2 separate regions of the Homo sapiens genome follow, and region 2 is linked to region 1. The links come from fine-mapping of genetic effects on gene expression. A gene starts in region 1. The other region holds a variant in brackets. All regions are shown on one strand. Distances are between the middles of the regions.

Evidence for each region.
Region 2: its variant is fine-mapped to the expression of USP40 in fibroblasts (GTEx, PIP above 0.99).

What each region holds. Positions count from the first base shown.
Region 1 is chr2:233,559,979-233,572,004 of GRCh38, reverse strand. It overlaps USP40 (ubiquitin specific peptidase 40), which reads left to right and starts at 5,223. Exons shown (of 32, transcript NM_001365479.2): 1 at 5,223-5,321; 2 at 6,432-6,649; 3 at 9,202-9,269. The coding sequence starts at 6,451.
Region 2 is chr2:233,461,963-233,473,988 of GRCh38, reverse strand. It overlaps DGKD (diacylglycerol kinase delta), which reads right to left. Exons shown (of 30, transcript NM_152879.3): 25 at 11,530-11,641; 26 at 11,254-11,346; 27 at 9,706-9,825; 28 at 6,786-6,903; 29 at 5,436-5,566; 30 at 1,891-4,618. The coding sequence ends at 4,529. Among named protein-coding and RNA genes, the nearest start is that of USP40, 99 kb to the left of the region's middle. RefSeq lists an enhancer at 1-132 and a silencer at 5,855-6,070. The variant A/G (reference allele first, on the strand shown) is at 6,458.

The DNA of each region.
Region 1 (12,026 bases):
TCTGTGGATTTTTTTTCCATTCAACTTTTTACTTTGGAATAAATTTAGATTTACAGCAAGTTTGCAACAAATAGCACAGAAAATCCCCAAATATCCTGTACGGGTTTCCCCTATCGTTAAATGTTATGTTACTGTAGCATATTTATCACAACTCATTAACCAACATTTGATACATTATGATGAACTAAAGTCTATGTTTTCTTCAGATGTCATTAATGTTTACCTAATGTCTTTTTCCATTTCTGAGATCCCATCCAGGATACCACATGACATTTAATCATTTAATCATATGTCTCCTTCACCTCCTCTAGCCTGTGACAGTTTCTTAGACTTTCCTTGTTTTTGATGACTTTGACAGTTTTGAGAAGTTCTGGTCACTTTTTCTGTAGAACGTTCCTCGGTTTGAGTTTGTCTAATGTTTTCATCATAGACTGGGGTTATGGTTTTTGGAAAGAAGACTACAGATGTAATGTCTTTTCTTGCTTTCTTGGGTATGGGATATCCAATTGCTGAAAAGACTATTCTTCTCTCCACTGAATTGCCTTTGCACCTTTGTAAAAACTTGGTTATTCATACAACTGTGTATTTCTGGACTTTCTATTCTGTTTCATTGACATATTTATGAAATATTTGATTACTATCCTTTGTAGGAGGTCTTGAAATGAGTCAGTGTTCACTCTCTTTTTTTTCTTGTTTTCCATTGTTGTTTTTGCTATTGTAGGTCCGTTACATTTCCATAAGAATTTTAGAATCAGTTTGCCAATTTGCACAAAAAAAAAGCCTGCTGGGATTTGGTTGGGATTGTATTGAATTTATAGATGAACTGGGAGAACTGACATCTTAAAAATTTTGAGTTTTTCAATTCATGAACATGACTGTGTATTTAGGTCACTCATTAAAGTTTTGTAGTTTTTAGTGTACAGTCTTTCACATCTTTTGTCAGATTTAGCCCTAAGTATTTCATATTTTTATGCTATTTTGAGTGGTATTTTCATTCCAATTTTCAATTGTTCATTGCTGCTACAGCTGACCCTTGAATAAAGCGAGGATTAGGGGCACCAACTTCGTGCAGTCAAAAATGAGCATAGAACTTTTGACTACCCTAAAACATAACTACAGTAGCCTACTGTTTGCTGGAAGCCTTGCCAATAACATAAAGTCAATTAATAAATATTTTGTGTAATATATGTATTATATGCTGTATTTTTCTTACAATAAAGTCTGCTAGAGAAAAGAAAATGTTAAAATTCATAAGGAAGAGAAAAGATCTTTACTGCCAGGCGCGGTGGCTCAGGCCTGTAATCCCAGCACTTTGGGAGGCCAAGGCGGGCAGATCACCTGAGGTCAGGAGTTCGAGACTAGCCTTAACATGGTGAAACCCCGTCTCTACTAAAAATACAAAAAATTAGCCGGGCGTGGTGTTGCATGCCTGTAATCCCAGCTACTCGGGAGGCTGAGCCAGGAGAACTGCTTGAACCTGGGAGGCAGAGGTTGCACTGAGCCGAGATCACGCCATTGCACTCCAGCCTGGGCAACAAGAGTGAAACTCCATCTCAAAAAAAAAAAAAAAGAAAGAAAAAAAGAAAAAGAAAAGATCTTTACTATTCATTAAGTGAAAGTGTATCACCATAAAGGTCTCCATGCTCACTGTCTCCCATTGAGTGGGCTGTTGAGGAGGGGTGGGGGTAGGGGGAAGTTGGTCTTGCTGTTTCAGGAGTGGCAGAGGGGGAATTGGTGGAGGAGGTGGAAGGGGAAGCAGGAGAGACAGGCACACTCAGTTTGACTTTATGGAAATACATCATAATTACTGTCTGATAGTTTTGCTTTTTCAATTCTTTAAAAATGCCTGAGCTGTGCGCAGTGGCTCACGCCTGTAATCTCCGCACTTTGGGAAGCTGAGGTGGGTGGATCATGAGGTCAGGTGTTTGAGACCAGCCTGGTCAACACAGTGAAACCCCATCTCTACTAAAACTACAAAAAATTAGCTGGGCGTGGTGGCGGGCACCTGTAATCCCAGCTACTTAGGAGGCTGAGGCAGGAGAATCACTTGAACCTGGGAGGCAGAGGTTGCAGTAAGCCAAGATCGCACCACTGCACTCCAGCCCAGGTGACAGTGCAAGACTCTGTCTCAAAAAAATAAAATAAAAATAAATAAATAAATAAAAATGCTTGCATACAGTACTAATCCTTCTTCTACTATTTGCTTTAGTTTCAATGCCCGTATCATAGAAGGGTCCAAGTTGTAAAAGAAGTCAAAAGCAGTCTTAAATAATCAGAACCCTTCTGCAAGATTGTCTAATGTCAATTCATTTTCTGACAGTGCTTCTTCTATATCTTCTTCCTCATTCTCTGGTACTGATTCAAAAGCACTCATCTCCATCAAGTCATCTTCTGTTAATTCCTCAGATGTGGTATCTATTAACTCTTGAATTTCCCCAAGATCTAGATCTTCAAACACTTTATGCCTCTTTTTTTTTTTTTTGGTGCCATATCCACAATCTCTTCCATGACTTCCTTGATAGGCTGTTGTAAATCCTGTGAACTCACACACAACATCTGGAATCTGGACGCAGTTTTCTTCAGCACTAATGTATTGTTTGGGGCTTGATGGCTTTCACAGCTTTTTCTGTAACAACATGGGCTTCTTCAATGGTGTAATCCTTCTGGACTTTCACGATATTCTCCCTGTTGAGATTCTCTTCCATAGTGTTGACACCCCTTTCCATAGAAAACCGTACGTAATGAGCCTTAAAGTTCCTTATGACCCCTTGATCTAAGGGCTGAATTAGACATGTTGTGTTTAGGGGCAAGGAGGCCACTTTGGTGCTCTCATTGCAGAATCTATGGGGTTCTGGGTGGCCAGGGACATTGTCCAATATCAAAAGCAATTTAAAAGGAAGTCCCTTACTGGCAAGGTACTTCCTGACTTCAGGGACAGAGCATTGGTTTTCATGGAACCAAACCAGAAAAAGTGTTTTCGTTGTACAGGGCTTTTTATCATAAAACAAAAAGACTTGCAGCTGGTGTTTATCTTTTCCCTTAAAGGCTCAGGGATTAGCAGCTTTATAGATGGCACATTTGAAAGCACTTTGGTAAATAGGTGTGTAGTGAGAAATACAGTATGAAAAGAATGTTGGGACCATCAGCGAACTAAGAATCAAAATAAAGAATTTCCACAGTGGATGTTGAGAAATCGTGGAAGCTTCTTTAGCAGAGAGGTTTGAGCTCAAAGTGCACCTTAGATGGATAGTGCATCTTATAGTGACGTGCAGGAAGGGGTGTGTAAAACGGGAGTCCACTGAAAAGGCTATCATCCTAATGCAGGTGAGATTTCATGGGGATCTGATAGGAGGAGAGGAAGCTATGGAATGAAAGGATTGTCCAGACAATACTTTGACATGCCATTAGTTTGATTCACAGACGAAAGACAAAGATATAAGATTATATAAATATAATCTTATATCTTTATAAATGTGACCACTCATTCATTCATATTTATAAGATTATATAACTATAATCTTATATAAGGTTATATAACTATAATCTTATATAAGGTTATATAACTATAATCTTATATAAGGTTATATAACTATAATCTTATATAAGGTTATATAACTATAATCTTATATAAGGTTATATAACTATAATCTTATATAAGGTTATATAACTATAATCTTATATAAGGTTATATAACTATAATCTTATATAAGGTTATATAACTATAATCTTATATAAGGTTATATAACTATAATCTTATATAAGGTTATATAACTATAATCTTATATAAGGTTATATAACTATAATCTTATATAAGGTTATATAACTATAATCTTATATAAGGTTATATAACTATAATCTTATATAAGGTTATATAACTATAATCTTATATAAGGTTATATAACTATAATCTTATATAAGGTTATATAACTATAATCTTATATAAGGTTATATAACTATAATCTTATATAAGGTTATATAACTATAATCTTATATAAGGTTATATAACTATAATCTTATATAAGGTTATATAACTATAATCTTATATAAGGTTATATAACTATAATCTTATATAAGGTTATATAACTATAATCTTATATAAGGTTATATAACTATAATCTTATATAAGGTTATATAACTATAATCTTATATAAGGTTATATAACTATAATCTTATATAAGGTTATATAACTATAATCTTATATAAGGTTATATAACTAATCTTATATAAGGTTATATAACTATAATCTTATATAAGGTTATATAACTATAATCTTATATAAGGTTATATAACTATAATCTTATATAAGGTTATATAGCTATAATCTTATATAAGGTTATATAGCTATAATCTTATATAAGGTTATATAGCTATAATCTTATATAAGGTTATATAGCTATAATCTTATATAAGGTTATATAGCTATAATCTTATATAAGGTTATATAGCTATAATCTTATATAAGGTTATATAGCTATAATCTTATATAAGGTTATATAGCTATAATCTTATATAAGGTTATATAGCTATAATCTTATATAAGGTTATATAGCTATAATCTTATATAAGGTTATATAGCTATAATCTTATATAAGGTTATATAGCTATAATCTTATATAAGGTTATATAGCTATAATCTTATATAAGGTTATATAGCTATAATCTTATATAAGGTTATATAGCTATAATATAGCTATACTCTTATATAAGATCATATAGCTATACTCTTATATAAGATCATATAGCTATACTCTTATATAAGATCATATAGCTATAATCTTATATAAGATCATATAGCTATAATCTTATATAAGATCATATAGCTATAATCTTATATAAGATCATATAGCTATAATCTTATATAAGATCATATAGCTATAATCTTATATAAGATCATATAGCTATAATCTTATATAAGGATCATATAGCTATAATCTTATATAAGATCATATAGCTATAATCTTATATAAGATCATATAGCTATAATCTTATATAAGATCATATAGCTATAATCTTATAAATGTGAACGAATGAGTGGTCCGCTGGCCGAGTGGACCCGCGAACTCACCAGCGGACTTGTAAGCGAGCTCACCTTGCCCGCTCCCGCTCCCGCTCCAGTTCCCAAACTCTTGGAGCAGAAGAGTTACATTTCCCATAAGGCCCCGTGCGAGGGGCCGGCGCTCCAGCGGGGCATCCTGGGAAGCATAGTCCACGATCCATAAATCACTTTCTGGAGACCCGCCCTCGCCAACATGGCGGCGCCCAGTTGGGGCGGGTTCGTTCGCTTCGCGTTTTGGCCAGGGCGGGGGTCTGGGCTTTAGGCAGTAAGTGCGGCTGGCGCCCGGGGATCCTGGGAGGGACGTGGGAAGCGTAGGGACAGTGTTGGTGGCCCAGTCTGAGGAGGGCGAGGCGAGAGGCTGCCCAGGCCTGCCTGAGGACGCGGCGCTCTCCTGGAGTCGGGGCAGTGGTTTCGGGCCACGGGGACCTCTGCCTTTTTGCGCCCCTGGGCCTGTGGTGGCTTGGAGGGCCTCGGCCGGCCGTAGGAGTTGGGAATTCAGGAATGCAGACAACGAGCTCGAGGCTAGACTCTCGAGTTGTGTTTTTTTAGTTTTCTTCTGAGGAAAAGAAAAATAATTGCATTTCAGCGCTTCCTGTCATTTGGTACCTATGCTAGGCGCTTTACGTTTCTCATCTCCAAGTGACCCTCCGCCACACTCGATGTGAAACCTTGGGGAAGTCACCTAGGCCCCCAGGGCTAACGATGGGATTAGTGGATACATACTGGAAGGCCTTTAGGCTTGATAATTTTAGTGGCAGTCTTCCCCGCCCTCCGCTCCCCTTCCCCCCTCCCTCCCCAGTGAACTGACTTCCGGCCCAACAGCTTCGGGACTGTACTAAAGTGCTCTAAAAAAAGTTAACTTGATCTGTTTAATTTAAATGTCATAATCTGGTATATAGTACTGAAGGGTGTGACAAGCAGAGATTTTAGAGAGTTGATTCTCAGAATTTAGGGTTGGCTTTGCCGTCCCAGCAGTGGATTAGTTGTGGCAACAGGTTTTCTTTTTTAAAAAAATTAGTGATGTGAACGTGCCTTTTTAAAAACAGCTGTTACTTATTGTGGGCCAAACCCTGTACACTAACTGCCCTTCTTTCGTTATGTCATTGGATAGTTTAAATGACCCGAAGAGACAGATGGTATCCTATTTTACACATAAGAAAACAGATTAACATATCCAGGGTCACACAGGTAGTTAGGGTCCTGATAGGGATGAAAAAAATCTAGATCTTGCTGCCTCCAAAACCCAACTACTGTACATAGAAACAGTAGTCCTGTGTTCTAAGAAACAACAGAATCGACTCCCAAGTGTAAGGTAGGGGGATTTGGGGAAAATTTATTTTAAAAATAAAAGCATTTATATGTCACTTTTTTTAAGGGTAGTATTTAGTTTCACAATGTTTGGGGACCTGTTTGAAGAGGAGTATTCCACTGTGTCTAATAATCAGTATGGAAAAGGGAAGAAATTAAAGACTAAAGCTTTGGAGCCACCTGCTCCTAGAGAATTCACCAATTTAAGCGGAATCAGAAATCAGGGTGGAACCTGTTACCTCAATTCCCTTCTTCAGACTCTTCATTTCACACCTGAATTCAGAGGTATGCTATGTTACGTACATTTAACTAGCAATATGTACCATCTTCTTTACATGTAATTAATTATGCAAAATCACAAATAGACCAATTATCTTAAAGATATATTCTACAGTATGTGTTTATTGTTGCACATATAAGATATAAATTGGTAATTCCCTCTGCAGAGAAATGTGAAGCTTAATCTTAAATATATCCTGGGTGATGACAATAATGTTTAGTAAAAAAATAAAGCAATATATTTCTTTTTTAATTCCTGTAATTTAAAGTACAACGTAAAGACAATTGTCATAAGTATCAGTCTTCATTATTGTTACACTGTTTGAGTTTTAAGATTTCTCTAGAATAACAAACACTTAAGCCAGAGTTATCCAACCAATTATATCTACCTTTTGGAGTGGGGAAGGGTGTCATATTATTTATATGGGTGCACAGTTGTTCATACGCATTTCTGAAATCTGGAAAGCTCACACCCTCATCTGATCTCACCTGAGCTTGTTTGGCTTCAGAACCAGACCTGGTGTGAGGCTATTTACAGTTTTTAGTTATCTCATGTGGGTGAATGTTCATACATTCATTACAGGAATATTAATCTGCTTGATTAATGGAAGCTGGCCCAGACCCTGCTGGGAATGTAACATTTTATATATATATAAAAAACACTTTTTTCATATTATCTTTATAAACTCTGGAAATTCTGAATTCCAAAGACCCAGAGATTTTAGGTAAGGGATTGTGTGCAAGAAACAGACCCACCACCCAAATTAGCTAAATTTAAAAGGGGGGTTATTGTAAGAATATAGGGGATCTCAGAAATCAACTGCAGGAAGCCAGCCTGACCTTACTGGACCCTTGATTTCTTGCCCCTGTTTCTCTCTATATATTTCTCCCATACCCCATCTCTGCAAACCAGCTTCCTCCACAAGGGTCCTAGGAGCTGTGTTCCCGTGAGCTCAGTGTGAACATTACTTTGCCTTCACCTGGCCCTGACTGGGGTCCCCAGCACTACATGGCTTTGTAGCTCAGCTCTCCACAGTGTCTCCATATTAGGAGGACAGACAGCCTGACTCATCCTATCTGGTTTGCCATGTTCCTCTTCCCTACTGCCACCACATTTATCAAATCTTTGTGGTTCTTCTGTTGCTTCTAAGCTTAGAAAGACTTGCTGCCTCCAGAGATTTAGTAAATATTTACCGCTGTTACCTTCCTAGGAGCAATTTAATGGGTTGGATTGCATGTGGGATTTAAGTGGTACCTCTTAGCCTTGACTCGATCCCCTCCATAAAAATATCTCCCTGATGCAATCAGTAATTCCACCAGTAAAAATTGCCAGCACTAATAAGTACATTTCTAATAGGGATAACACTTTTCCAGGTTTTAATATAGTTGAAGTTAAAGGACAACTCGAAGTAGAAACGTAGCCTCAAAGGGACTGAGGAAGATGGTGAAGTGTAGGGCGGGTCATGGAGCGTACCATTAGGCAAGAGTAGTACTGAGAGTCCCAGGCCAACTTCCTCTCCAGCAGAGGGGATTGCTGGCCAAGCATATGATTTGACATCTTAGTGCACAATGTGCACTGCTTGTATAGCTTAGCCTGAATCCTGATGGTGACTGACAGGGAGGTATAATTTGGAAAGAATAAGGACTGTCAGAGAACTGGCGGGGGAAATTTTGGAATAGTATTTTAAATAATAGGGCTACATTGGGTTCCATTGTACTCCATTACAATGTAGCTGAGAGTACTGGGAGATTATTATAAAAGTTTTTGTATGGTTTTATGCTTTAACTTGTAGATTTGTAGTTCATTTTTGCCGAGTCCCAGCACTTAGAAAGAATATAACATTCATTAACAGTAAGCACTAGGGTAGCAATAGTTTTTCAATAGGGAGACACATTTATCCCATTCCTTGTATCCCTAGAGTATATCAGAGTTTCCCAGTAAGAGTTCCTACCTAGGCTCGGATACAGACTTCTCAAAAGATTCAGGTATGCCCCATTGGGTGGCACATCACCTAGATGTTGGGTGATAAAGAAATTCTGGAGACTCGCATGGGGTTGCCAACTTCTTTTTCCAGATAAGACCACTGCCATCTGTTATTACCTTCAACACGGAAAAGACATTTTCACACCAAAAAAAAGGGCATCTCAGAGTAAAAGAGGATCCTTCCCACGAAAGGATGTTTGTTAGCCTTACATGTGGCAGGAAAACTGCAACACTACTGTATTTCCTGAGATTCTTGGGCTTTTGGGACCTGATGCCATAGACAGTGGGAAGCCATGAAAGATTTCTGATGTTACTGTTTTTAGTTTTATGCATAAAGATTATTTTCCTTTCCTAGAATTAGGAAATGCTGAAGCCTTAGCATGACACTATTTTCTTAGAGTCACTGGTTAAAAATGTTACAAGAAAGTAAAGTGTATAGAGTAAGGTATAAATATTGCCACAATCATATTTCTGAATCTACTTGATTTTACTTAAAGGTGGTCTTGGCTTTCTAAAACAATTTTTTAAAATGAAATGATGTCATTTGCATCTCTGATTCTACCTTTTTCTTTAGAAGCTCTATTTTCTCTTGGCCCAGAAGAGCTTGGTTTGTTTGAAGATAAGGATAAACCCGATGCAAAGGTATTTTTATTATTATTATTATTATACTTTAAGTTTTAGGGTACATGTGCACAATGTGCAGGTTAGTTACATATGTATACATGTGCCATGCTGGTGCGCTGCACCCACTAACTCATCATCTAGCATTAGGTATACCTCCCAATGCTATCCCTCCCCCCTCCCCCCAACCCACAACAGTCCCCAGAGTGTGATGTTCCCCTTCCTGTGTCCATGTGTTCTCATTGTTCAATTCCCACCTACGAGTGAGAATATGTGGTGTTTGGTTTTTTGTTCTTGCGATAGTTTACTGAGAATGATGATTTCCAATTTCATCCATGTCCCTACAAAGGACATGAACTCATCATTTTTTATGGCTGCATAGTATTCCATGGTGTATATGTGCCACAGTTTCTTAATCCAGTCTATCATTGTTGGACATTTGGGTTGGTTCCAAGTCTTTGCTATTGTGAATAATGCCACAATAAACATACGTGTGCATGTGTCTTTATAGCAGCATGATTTATAGTCCTTTGGGTATATACCCAGTAATGGGATGGCTGGGTCAAATGGTATTTCTAGTTCTAGATCCCTGAGGAATCGCCACACTGACTTCCACAATGGTTGAACTACAGTCCCACCAACAGTGTAAAAGTGTTCCTATTTCTCCACATCCTCTCCAGCACCTGTTGTTTCCTGACTTTTTAATGATTGCCATTCTAACTGGTGTGAGGTGGTATCTCATTGTGGTTTTGATTTGCATTTCTCTGATGGCCAGTGATGATGAGCATTTTTTCATGTGTTTTTTGGCTGCATAAATGTCTTCTTTTGAGAAGTGTCTGTTCATGTCCTTCGCCCACTTTTTGATGGGGTTGTTTGTTTTTTTCTTGTAAATTTGTTTGAGTTCATTGTAGATTCTGGATATTAGCCCTTTTGTCAGATGAGTAGGTTGCGAAAATTTTCTCCCATTTTGTAGGTTGCCTGTTCACTCTGATGGTAGTTTCTTTTGCTGTGCAGAAGCTCTTTAGTTTAATTAGATCCCATTTGTCAATTTTGTCTTTGGTTGCCATTGCTTTTGGTGTTTTAGACATGAAGTCCTTACCCATGCGTATGTCCTGAATGGTAATGCCTAGGTTTTCTTCTAGGGTTTTTATGGTTTTAGGTCTAACGTTTAAGTCTTTAATCCATCTTGAATTGATTTTTGTATAAGGTGTAAGGAAGGGATCCAGTTTCAGCTTTCTACATATGGCTAGCCAGTTTTCCCAGCACCATTTATTAAATAGGGAATCCTTTCCCCATTGCTTGTTTTTCTCAGGTTTGTCAAAGATCAGATAGTTGTAGATATGTGGCATTATTTGTGAGGGCTCTGTTCTGTTGCATTGATCTATATCTCTGTTTTGGTACCAGTACCATGCTGTTTTGGTTACTGTACCCTTGTAGTATAGTTTGAAGTCAGGTAGTGTGATGCCTCCAGCTTTGTTCTTTTGGCTTAGGATTGACTTGGCGATGCGGGCTCTTTTTTGGTTCCATATGAACTTTATTTTCTCTTGGCCCAGAAGAGCTTGGTTTGTTTGAAGATAAGGATAAACCCGATGCAAAGGTATTACATCTATGATTTACTGGGGTGTTTTAGCGTATTCAGAAAATTTTTTTTAAAGAAGGAATTAAGTGGCTTGTTCACAAAGCAATAATTTTATTAATTATCAAATATGCTCTTTATTTCCAGAAAGTGACTTGGCCTATACCCTATGGGTAATGGAATTTGCCTTCCGAGAAAGAATCAGTTTTCCAAGTACAATACTGCTACTGCTTTATAAACATGTAACACTCTTTACTATGCTTATTCTTTCTTCTGGTGAAGGAAATATTTGCAGAACATCCACATTAGCTTCCCCCAGAAGTCTATTTAAAGCACTTTTTTTGCAACAATACCGACCTCTCCACCCCACACAAAAAAAAATAGAGGCTAGTATTCTTTCAATTTGGTACTCTGGAAATAAATTGAGTAATGAGTTAATTATTTTGTTTGTTATTGTGGTGATATTTAAAGTGCATATCTAATCATGTTCCTCCCTGCTTAAACATAACTCAAAAGTTTCTTACCATGTTCAGGCTCAAATTTGTACTTCTTAGGAGTCTTTCATGATCTAGCCCAGTACTTCTCAGGCTACCTGTGTGGCAAAGGACCTGTTTTTGTGTATTTCTTTTTATTCCCAATCTGTTGCAGATTAGCACTTTTCTAGTATATAATAAAAATGCCATGGGAATGTCAAATTGCCATTACAATTTCTAAATGCTTATTCTCCTTTAAATACTTAAAGTCTAGCCTACAGACCAGACTCTGAGCAACATTGCTCAGTCTGCCCCAGCCCTCACCACATCAAGTAAGGCAGGAACTCACTTGGAGCCAGGAGAAAGTGAGGCAGGGTGTGCTGAGAACTCCAGAGCGAGATACAGTATTGTGCCTGGAAAATTTCTACAGAGGGGAAATTGTGTGTATCAGAGGTATTTTAGAGAAATAATGGACTATTAGAAGAGATTCAAACTACTGTCAATCTGTAATCAGTTGAGTGGTTTATTAAGGCCTATTTGAGTTTTAATGTTTGTCTGAACCATATCAAGGTAGAAAACTCCAAATAACTATTATTTTTTAGATTGCATTATAATTTTCACAGAAGAACTGAATCATAATTAGTTTTTCCCTTATAATAGGATATTTATAAACTTTCTCCTGAATGAACTGGGAGATATAAAAAAGCTAGTATGCAGTTGTTTTCAAAA
Region 2 (12,026 bases), 98 kb after region 1:
GCCAGGGCACAAAGGGGTGGGGGGACCACAGCAAAACTCTTCTGGCAAACAACAGAGGCCACAAATCCAGGGTTCAGTTAACATTACTGGACCAAGCACCCAGTTTGTTTTTCTAAGTGGTTGGGGAATTCTGAAGAGGATCAGTTTAAAAACAGTATAGACCCTGCTGCATTTTCTCCACTCAACTCTACTGTCCCGTCTCGCGATCATGCTACACTTGCAGCCCCGTCCACTCTAGATCGCTGCCCGGCCTCCCCACGCTGTCAGATGCTGTCTCTGTGAGAAGCCCCCTCCTCACTGCTTTCCCACACAATGGAGCCATGCCCCGTGTGAGATGAGCCACGCGGGCACAGGAGTGAGGCTGGCAAAGCGCACACCAGCCTCCCCCCAGGTCTGCCCCTGCCCGGGCATCTGGTGCCCCCAGCACGTGAGGCGCCCCGGCTGCTGTGCTGGAAAGCATGCCTGTCACTTGGGCCCAATTTCCTCACCTGTCTTGTGGGCTGGGCTTGCTATGAGGCTTGGGACACGGGAGAGCACGGCTGTCGAAAAGATATGCCCTCTGCCTCCCATGTCAGCCACGCGCTGGCTGTGCCTCATGGGGCAAGTTGTGTCGCCTCTCTGAGCCTGTCCCTCGCCTGTAAAATGCAGATAACCCACCATGTAAGGCTGTGAGGGGAATTAGAGGAGTTCGTACATTCAAGGTACTTAGACCAACACCTGGCACAAATTATAAAGTGTCAGCCGTCAGCATCCCGATCACCGTAATAGCTCGTACCCTTCGCACTGATTGGTTTAGTCATGAGTGCGTGAGGCAGTTCTAGCCAAGACATTAGAGGAGGTCGGCTGAAGCCAGAGCTTCGGAAAGGGCTCCCTTTATCTTAAAAAGAGACACACATAGGATCGCTTAACGCCAGGAGTTCAAAACCAGCCTAGGAAGCAAGCGAGACCCAGTCTCTACAAAAAATTTTACAAACTAGCTGGGTATGTTGTCATGCACCTGTACTCTCCGCTACAAGGGAGGCTGAGGTGGGAGGATCACTTGAGTCCAGGATTTGGAGGCTGCAGTGATCTACGATTATGCCACAGTACTCCAGACCAGAAGACAGAGCAAGACCTCATCTTCAACAACAACAACAAAAAGAGCAGGTGACACATAAAAGAGGCAGCCATTTGTCCCCAAACACCTTACACTGGTGTGATGCCTGGAGCTGTGGTGGCCATCTTGCAACCATGAGGCCTGAAGTCCTGAATGGCCAGAGAGGAGAATATACACCAGAAAAAAAAAAACGGGGGGGTTTGTTACCATGGAAGGAGTGAGGAAGAGCTGCTAGGGAGGCAGCCAACACTCCCGGAGCACATGCAGCCCTTCTGTACCCGACCAGCCTGATGGTGTCTTCCATGAATGCAGTCCCCATCCCTCACTCCAGGAAACTGGGGAAGACAATTCAAGTGGCCTTGATCGTAGACAGTTCCCTTGGAAATAAAAGTACCAAGACAAAGCAGAGAAGTCGGAGAGCTTCAGGTTTGCAGTTTTATAGAAAAGATTTAAGAGGGTTAAAATATTCGTTAAAATGGCCCTCATTCTCCCGGGCCAAGGCTGTGTGGTCACACCTGAGAGCCTCAGCACTGCCCAGTACCCTCTCTCTCCTTGCGGAATTTTTAGTCCAACTGATCACAGAACCCACACCCTAAAAAATACAACAGCATTCTAATGGCATTCTAACGGCATTCTGATGGCATGCTAATGGCATTCTGTTTTGCTTTTTAGCCACCAACAACTCAACCTATTTTCAGAGCAGGTGAAAAACAATTCTGAATCCAGTTTGGAAAGATTCCGGCAACCAACACTTTATGTCAAAGCACAAGGAATGATGACAAAGACTCTGGCGATGGAAGATCAAAAACAGGCTTGTTTTATTTATACACAGAACAACTTATGTACAGCACTCAGGTATGGACTATGTACATGACAATACAAGAGGCGTTTGTTTCCACGGTGGTCACTATATAAATTAAGATTATAAATACGAGGGGGTAAGCCCCACCTGAGGGCACAGAACCTTTTCTCCAAGACTCTTCAGGGATCCTTCCTGCCTCTCTCTGCACAGCAGACCATGAGGCCCGTCTGGCAACACCACAAGGGGACCTGGGCCGGGGCAGCAGAGCAGCCCCCAGACAGCGAGGACACCCCAGTGCGGGACGCCAGCCCAGCACCAAAGGGCAGGTTCCTAAACACTCATGTTCATTCCTTCCTCACATTCTAACTTGTTAGAATTAGAAAAATGGTTTTTATGTAAACAGTGTTGTTCTAATCACTGACAACATATTAATTTTAAACACTTTTGATCCAAACCCAACTCCTTGCCAGGAGTAGGACACTGAGGACTTGGGGTGGCCCTGATGTCCTTGAAGCCACAGTCAGCTGTTTATCCTCCTCATGTCCCCTCCCCACCCAAGTTCCAGCTTGCCTGGGGCTTGTTCTGGGACCCTAAGAACCCCAGGATGCCCACATCGCCAGGCCAGCAGGGCCAATGGTCATGCAGGGACTGCGGGACAGGTTCCCATCATCTCCTGTGTTAGCCCATTCCACCTGGGAAACCAAGCGACTGCCGTGGCTGGCTTATTTCTCCCTCTGCCAACCCCCATCTACAATGTTCTGGGGAAAACAATGAGAGGTGGAAAAGGTAACATACAACCACCTTCCACCCACATCACTTCCAGTGAGGCAGCTAAGTCCACCAACAGAGCGTGGGAGAGTCTTTCATCCAAAAATCCCAACACGTCGCATGCAGCGACAGGAGGCTGTGCTGGGGAAACCCAAGGCCTGGCTCAGCCTCCATACTCTAAGGGCCTCGGGCCAGAACGACCACGAGAGGGGAGCACCCAAAGGCACGCAGAGGGGCCCACCTGGGTGCACTGCAGAGGGGACAGAGGGGCTGTGAGTGGGAGGTGGGCCAGTGCTGTTCACTGCCGCCTGCTCAGGACCAGGGGCTGCTGCAGACCCAGCCCGGTCTATGCCCACCCCCGCAGGTGCAGCCCAGCTTCTGCACATCAGATGGAGTGACGCTGACTAAAGGACCTGGACAGCGCCGGCAGATACTCCCAACACTGTCCTTCTCTTTGGGAGCCAAAGAGAAGCCACGGCAGATACTCCCAACACTGTCCTTCTCTTTGGGAGCCAAAGAGAAGCCACGGCCAGGCAGCCAGGCCAGAGCCATTTCCTCCTCACACCAGGGCAGGGGTTACAGAAACCTCTTCCCAAGACATTTACAAGCACCTCTGAGCCATGACTATCAACGGGAAAAAAGGGCAAAGTCAGTGCCCTGGAGGACCAGGGGCATCCTTCACCTGGGCACTGTCCCTACGGGGCACAGCCCTCTCCCCAGGCGAGCTCCCTGCCCTCTGGCACCATCATCTACTAGTTCAGAGCCAGGACAGAGGCAGGGCAGGGGCAGCGCGGACCACCAAATCAGAGTCCCTGCCAGCACCTCCAGCGACATCACGCCCAGCAGCAGGCGACAAGAAGCCACTGCAGGGGCAGACACTCAGGAGAGCCTCCGGCCTCCAGGCCACCGGACGGGCTGAAGAGGTCAAACCACCCCTGGCCCACCAGGGCCACGCTCCCTGGGAACCACAGAATGGGCAGAAAAAGTTTCCCAGAGCCAGGAAGCATTTCCCACACAGAAACACTCATGTGGACACACATCCTCTGTCTGCAGGGATGCAGCTGGCAAGCTGTCTCACTCACACCCCAAGCTGAACTCGCCTAGAGCGTCCGGAGACAGAAGGGCAGGCGTCCCCAGCCCACAGTGGGGGGAGGGAGGAGCGGGAGGAGAGAGGATGGAGGAGGGAGGAGCACAGGCCCTGTGACACCCAGGGAGGGGCTCCCCGCCTGGGAAACAGCACCCGCTGCCTTGGCTCACGCAGGAGGAATTTTTTTTTCTCTTCACGTCAAATTACAATCAACAAGACTGGAAACATCCATGCTACTTTCAAACCAGGAAAGAGCACGATTTTTGTTCAACAAAAGCTGCATCAACAAACAGGGGCCCTTGCAGGCTGCTGTGCTGGGCCCCAGCCACGTTTCTGAGAACTGGCTGGGGGCCAGGAGGCGGAGCCACACGGTGCGGCCACAGAAGGACACACGGAGAGGAGCCCCCGGGACAATCCAAGCACGAGGCCAGGCAAGCAGTGCCCAGGAGGCCAGACGCCGCTGGATTCCCTGGCCCACAGCACAGGCGGGCGAGAGCTGAGTGGCCGTGACACATGTGCCCCAGGTGACTCTGAGCTGGAGAAAGTGTTGTTTCAAAGGTAGCTGTGTTGTTATGTTCGAGACCCCAGAGCTCTGGTGGACGGTGTCACGGAGGCTTTCTGTAGCTGACAGAGGAAGTAGCACCATGAGAAGGGGGCGGGCTGCAGCATCTGCCCAGGGCCTCAGTGGCAGGAGGCGCAGAGGCCACAGGCTGAGAGGGCGGAGGCTAGGCCTCGGCGGCGGGGATGTGGAGGCCACAGGCTGAGAGGACAGAGGCTAGGCCTCGACGGCGGGGGCGCTGCGGCTCAGCTCCTTGATGCCACACAGGATCCTCTTCATGTGGCCCACCTTGGTCACGCCCAGGTCCTGCAACAGAGAAGACACCGCCATGGATGCCGAGAAGACAGCCAGGGCCAGAGGGCTCCACAGCAGGCCTGCCACAACGGCCCTTCCCATTCGGCTTGTGAACACAAATGAGAGCCAAAATGACAAAAACGGTAAAACAAGATGGAAACAGCTTAAAAGTAACAACCATACAGATGCCTGGCCCATTGTTCCTGCATTCTAGTCACTACCATCAGCAAGGACAAATCCAAGACAAAGACAAAACACAGGCCTAAAAGCAAGTGGATGACAAGTGACCTCATGAGAGCCACTGTCCAGGACACCCACAGTGGCCTTTTGCCCTCTCGGGACTCAGCCAGTGATTCAACACCCAGGGGTTGGCCCGTTGAGGCCAACCTGGGCAGGGGCATGGGCCTGCAAGATGTGGCGTGAGGCCTGGCATAGACCGAGGCCTGGCACCCAACCACCCCTCCCAATGCTCCCTGCAGACGAGTGGCAGCACCCGCCCAGGAGCAGCATGGGGACAGTCGTGTGTGACTGTGCTTCAGGGTCTGTGTCCCCTCATAGTGTTTTTAACACGAAGACAGTCCTTGTCTGAGTAGCCTAAGATAACCAAGGCTCTGCCCCCCATTATGTCTGCTCCTGGCTTCCTCTGGTTGTGGTGGGTGGAGCCATCACTGCCTAGATGAGGGCCACAGCCGCCCCCACCTGAGGTATACACGAAAGCCTGAGAAGAATCGTGATGCTGGGACATGGCCAGGTCGGGGGAGAGGATGGAAGAGAAGGGAGCTGCGTGCAAGCCCAAGTGCAGGTTCCAGGGAGACGCCTATGGAAGTACCTTGAGGTCCCTCCGCTCCAGGTGCAGGAGCTCAGAGCCCCGGATGTCGTGCCGTGTGAAGATGTCCTTATACTCACAGAGACTGAGGTGCTCCAGCCAGGCAGCAACCTCCTCTGTCCCCCAGAGGTGAACTGTCGGAGATGGAAAAGCACGAGTGCAGTGAGTGCCCAGAGCCCAGTGCAAGGTAGGCAGCAGCTGGCACCCAGCACCCGAGAGCCCAGTGCCAGGACAGGAGACGTCCCAACAGCCAGCACCCGAGACAGCCCAGCAGCAGCCAGCGCCTGAGATAGCCCAGCAGCCGGCACCCGAGATAGCCCAGCAGCCAGTGCCTGAGATAGCCCAGCAGCTGGCACCTGAGCCATCTCTGGCAGCCGGTATCCATCACCCAGCCAACAGCACCACCCACCAGCAGTGCAGAAAGAGGCACAGAGCCACCCGCTCAAGGGGCGATGGCTGCAGCAGAGCTGGCATCTGTTCCTGCCAGGTGGGCCGCCAGCCTCTGGTCATTTCCCCGTGTCCCAGGAGGGATTTACCACCACCAAATATGAGGGAAATGTCCTCATGATTGTGGCCAAAGCCAGCTTTTCCTCCAGCTTCTAGAAGGGTTAAATTTCACTTCTGGACCATAGCAGGAAAGGAAACGAGCAGAGATTTCAATTCACATAGTCAGAGCCACCATTATTAACAGAAACCCCATTTCTGGACAAACATGCAAAGAAGAAAAACCCACAGGAGCTGCCCTGACTGGCGGCAAACACCAGTCCCAATATCCAGGCTTGGAGGCCTCTCCAGCCCCTGACAGCACTGGATATGGCCTGGGTATTCAGGGCTGATCCTTCAGACAGAGAGTTTAGCTCCAATTTACTGACCCAAAGGAACAATGTCCTTCAGGACCATATTCGATTGATTTCATCACCCACAATCTCTGGTGGCCTGGGCTTCCCAGCACAGGAACCTCGACCAATGCATCAATTTATCAGGAACCAGCAGCCCAGGAGGGAGCAGGCAGGGCATGCCCCAGC[A/G]CGGCCTGAGTCCAGAGCTTTGTGTCTCCAAGTTTGTCTTGTCACCACTCTACTGCTGTCTTCCTCCCCACCTCGAATCCCCCAACTCAGGGCAGGCAGAAAGCCAGAGAGCACGTCAGGGCCGGGTGTGACAACGGTCAGAGGGGAAGCAGGCAGGGTGGAGGGCTGCAGCTACCAACAGACAAGTGTGGTCGCAGGACCGGGGGTTACAGCACAGGGACCAAGAGGGAGGAGCTGCAAGGCCAAGGGAGAAAGCAGAGACCAGGGGAACGGGGCCGATCCAGCAGGCGTGGACGGCCAGAAACACACGCGGGAGAGAGGCAGGTACCCGGGGCTCCCAGGCTACTGTGAGCTTCTTTGTTCTTGTTGTTTTTCTCCTTTTTAAACTTGGTCACGAGGCGGAATTTACCACTGCGACTGCGCTTGGCAAGATCCAGCATCACACTCTGTTGGGGAGAATGAGGAATACTGAGAATCAGGCTGCAACTGATCACGGCCTCATGCCCATCTCCACCAGAGAGGCTGGGAGGGCAGGCAGGGCTGAGATGAGCGGGAGCTGGGAAAGACCTCTTGTGCCTGAAAGGGCTTCTCTCCCTTATTGATTCTTGTATTTAGTGTTGATTTTAGTGAGTGTTAAAGTGGTTTCAAAGTGATCATAGTGTCTATTTTTATCATATTCTACTTCCTTCACTTTACATGTGCGTTTCTCATGAGATTTAAAAACTTTTTGAAAATATCATAAATATCAGTATCTAAACAAAAATTATTAAAATAACCTCTTTAGCCAATCTTCTAGTGTTGGATTGCTGGGCTTTGATTCTTAGTATTACGAGTATCTGTCTAATGAAAACTCTCCTGCACTTTGCATTCTTTCCTTGCGATCCACTCCCTGAGGCAGAAGAGCAGAGGAAGGGTGAAGAGCGGAGCCACACAGAGGCTCGGCCTCTGCTCTTGACAGCCATCGGCGGCGGCAGCCTCTCCACACAGCACTCCCTGAGATGCACGGAGGTAACACTGCCTCACTCTGTGATGCACTCTTTATAAGAGACACTCCAAATAAAGCTTGAAAGTAAAACTATGAAAAAATATAGCAAGCAAGTAGACTTGAAGATAAAAAGAATTACTAAAGATAAAAGGATCATTATATAATGATAAAACCTATGGGTACCCAATAACATAGCCTCAAAATACATGAAGCAAAAATACACATAACCACAAAGATAAACTGAGACATCTACAATTATGGTATTAGAGTTAACTGATCTATCAAGAAGACAAAAAAAATTTCAGTAGGAACTTAATGATGTAAACACAACTGCATACAAGATACATTTACAAAAACCACCTATTGGGCAAGTCTCACCTCAGTACATTTCAAAGGACTAGTAACATACAGACCATTGCTTGGAGCACAGTAAAATGAAGTTAGGGAATAAAAAACATAGTCTTGAACAGCTAATTTAGATGCTTATTATTTGGCACAGTTTCGTGACTATTATAACTGTCATAAGTTGATGACTATACATAACAATTATTGTATTTTACCAATGTAAAGTGATCCTCTTTTTATCATTTATTGTCTTACATATGCAATTTTATTTTTATATTGTTACTTTGGATTTTTTATGGTGTTTTAATTATTATTAATCTTTCTGTATCATAAATTTTTATTAGGAGTATGAGAAAAAAAAACAGGGCTCTTGTGAGCAATATATGGTTAGGTTTCTTTTAAAACACAACCTAAGAATTTACTTTTAAGAGAAAGCCATGTCATTTTTCTGTTATCTTATTTTCATGCTGTTAGCGATACCCTTGCTGGTCCTTTACTTTCTTTTACAATATAAATTGTATTTTATTTTTGTCCTTGGTGGCAATTTGGAAGATATAAATCTTTTCAGCTCTATTAGAAATTACCTTTAAGTTTAAAAAAAAATTTTTTTTTAATAGAGACAGGGTCTCACTATGTTGCCGAGCCTGGTCTTGAACTCCTCGGCTAACGTGATCCTCCCACCTTGGCCTTCCAAAGTGCTGGGATTACAGGTGCGAGCCACCACTCTTGACCCTAAAAACATTATTGACTCTGTATTTCTCCAAGTATGAAAGTCAAGAATGTTGTTTGTAACGTTCTTCCACTGTAAGAGGAGGAATTTAACATGCTTTCCTCCCCCCGTCCATGTCCTCTTCCCAGCCTCTCACCTCACTGCCCACTTTACTGGCCTTAATTTAATCTGGTATTATAGGGCTATGTCACTGTGACATCTGTTGAATCATTGTATATTATTATTTTTGTAATTTTGGGTAAAATTTCTTAATCACCTTTACAATGAATTATTTAATGGATTTTGAGGAGCTTGCCCTGTCCTTTTATACCCAAGTGCCCTCACTGAGAAGCTGCTGAGTTTCATCCATCGGCTGGAGTGCCTGAGTCAGTTTCCCATGAAAGGATTGCATGCGTCAAAAAACGCCCCAGGGCCCCGGAAAGAGGGTGCTGTTGTGCAGCTGCCCACCTCTGTCCCCTCGCCTTACTGCTGCCCACAGGTCTCACAAACCCCACTGGGCAGGGGTGCCCAGGTTTGGCGTCTTGCAGTTATTTGCCTTCTGCAACTGTACTGCCCAAGATGAGCTTTCCTCAGGGCCCCTCTGTGTTCTATCTCTGAAGCAGGGAAGCCAAGAGACAGGCTGGGGTTTGTCCTTGTCCAGACACGGCCCTCTCCAGGGCTCCTTCAGCCAGCACTCCCTGCAGAAGAATGTGACTCCACCCCAGGGTCCGCTATGCCCTGCGTCCTCGGGTCCCTCCCAGACCTGCGACGAGCTGGAGTCTTTCTGTTCACACAGGAAGAGAGTGTGAGTGGGGAGTGGCGCACACCAACTGCGCCCTGTCCACAGCGGGATCCCAAAAGGCTGCCATTTATCCCATGATACATCTCCACCCTCGGGGGAGGCTGTGGGGCTGGGCTCAGCCTTCCTTCTACCCACTGTCCAGGAAGCCCTGCAGTTCTGTTTCAGAGGACAACAGGTCCCTGGTCCTCAAGGGGCACTCTTAATCCCAGCCCAGAACTCCTTCCTACCTGCTGTCCCTCCCTGCCTTAAAGAGCATTTTAATAGCGAAGTCTGGAGAAGGCCCCTCAGGGGCTGCCGGAGCGACACGATCTTGATCCCAGAGCCACACGGGTCACAAGGAACACAGGCACTTCAGGCGAGAGCCACCATGTCCGGGAGACCCAGGCACAGCCCTATGAGCCACATACCTCTTCGTCGCCGGGCTCTGCGGACTGGCAGAGCCACGGGGTGTCTGCCAGCCTCCTGAGCTGTCGGTCCATCTCGGCAAGAGCACTCCCCAGCTGCTCCTTCTGAGGCGGATCCAGCTGCTGCTCCAGGCGGAGGGAGGGAGAGAGAAATGGAGAGTGTGCACTGCTGATCAGCGCGAGGCCCAGGGGGGTGAGGTCCGCTCCAGGGCTCTGCTCTGCTCTGATCAGGGAGCTCACTTTCCAGAAACGAAGTCCCAGAGCACCAGAAAAGGAACCAAACCCAGAACCTCACTTTCTAAGTAGTGCTGGTGAGAGAATAAAACTGTCCATCAGTCAACGATGAATTCACATAGAGCAAGGCTGACAACTGACCTGCTTGTGTCCCTCTGTCAGAAATGGGGTCGGAGCCATTCACCTGTGTCAAGCAGTGGAAATGCTGTGGGAAGCAAAGTCAGCAGTCGAACCTTGCAGGAGGCAGCAGGAGGTGTGCAGTGAGGACACGCGTGTGACCACGGGACGTGGGACGAGGGGAGGCATGGGATAAGGAGATGCGTAGAGTGAGGATTTCTGTGGAGTGAGGTGATGCGTGGAGTGAGGTGATGCGTGGAGTGAGGAGATGCGTGCAGTGAGGACATGCGTGGAGTGAGGAGATGCGTGGAGTGAGGAGATGCGTGGAGTGAGGAGATGCGTGGAGTGAGGAGATGCGTGGAGTGAGGAGATGCGTGGAGTGAGGAGATGCGTGGAGTGAGGAGATGCGTGGAGTGAGGACATGCGTGCAGTGAGGACATGCGTGCAGTGAGGACATGCGTGCAGTGAGGACATGCGTGGAGTGAGGAGATGCGTGGAGTGAGGAGATGCGTGGAGTGAGGAGATGCGTGGAGTGAGGAGATGTGTGGAGTGAGGAGATGTGTGGAGTGAGGTGATGTGTGGAGTGAGATGCGTGCAGTGAGGAGATGTGTGGAGTGAGGTGATGTGTGGAGTGAGGTGATGCGTGCAGTGAGGAGACGCGTGCAGTGAGGAGGTGAGTGGCGTGCGGAGTGGAGGGCTGGGAAACCACACCTGGGGCGGTTCTCCAGTTGCCCAATCTTTATCAAGCCCCTTCCTCCTCATCTTTAAAACCAGAAGGCTGGCCAGTCAGTCTCTCAGGCCTCTCCCTGTTCTAGCCCCTGTGATTCAGTAACAGCCCCACAGCTGCCATATCAGCCGGTTTTGCAGGGCTGAGCATGGAAGGTGCCTGAGAGTGTGGCCAGCTCTCGGCAGGAGCAGGACTCTGCACTACAGGCTTCTAAGGCAGAAAAGCATCTTCTGTCCACGACGACAAGGGTGTTTCCGCTGCAAGCGCTTCTCGCATGCTTGAGACAACCTGACTGAGGGGTTGCCAGCAGGGGTGGGCACCAGCCGCACAACAAACCAAATGACCTCTGCGGCCCATTCCTTAAGACCGGGAACTCTGGACTAAAGTGTGCTGCCCTGTGTGCCCAGCAACCTGGCGACAGCAGTCGTTTCACACACAGCCCGAGCCCTGCTGTCCCTGGGGCACCAGCTTACCAGGGCCATCTTCCCAGACAGCAGCAGCTCCGTCTCACTGCGCAGAGCTCTGAAGTTATTCACCATTTCCAGGACGAAGCTGCAGTTGAGCCCCTAGAAGAAACCAGGCAAATATGCATGGGGGCGGGGGGCCGAACATGCACGGTTAGGGGCAGGGAACAAGCACTGGGAGGGCCGAACATGCACCGGGGAGGCGGGGGAATGAACACGCACGGGGAGGGCCGAGGGCGGCAGACACTGAGAAGAAGCCAGGACTGAAAAGGCCAGAATAGCTACCTCTGTGGTTCTGGGCTTGCCATACACACGGTCCATGGACTTGGAGCTGGCATTGACGGCGTGGGCCAGTTCCTGCTCCATGTCCCGGTGAGACTGAGCTATTTCTCGGATACTAGAGAGGAAGAGAAGCACGGGCAGATGTCAGGCCAAATGGAAGGGCAGCCTTTCACAATACGCATCTGAACACGGCCCAGGTACCACCTGGAGGGCTGATGTGGAGGGCAGGCCCAGCAGGACGACAGGGATCGTGGCTCAGCCCAGCGACCGTTCAGTCACAAGCTTGGGCACAGGATGACCCACAGCAAATGGGAGGGCTTCCACGAGAAATCTGACGTCAAAATCCAAGATTTTCCAGGGAGAGAAATGTACAAAATGAGGCTTACAACCTGTAAAACGGCCAGTGGGCAAGTGACAGTGTGCACAGGCCCACTGCAGAGACTGCTGCAGTAAGGCACAATCCCCACAGCCTTGCTGGAACCTGTAACTGGCCGGTCTGT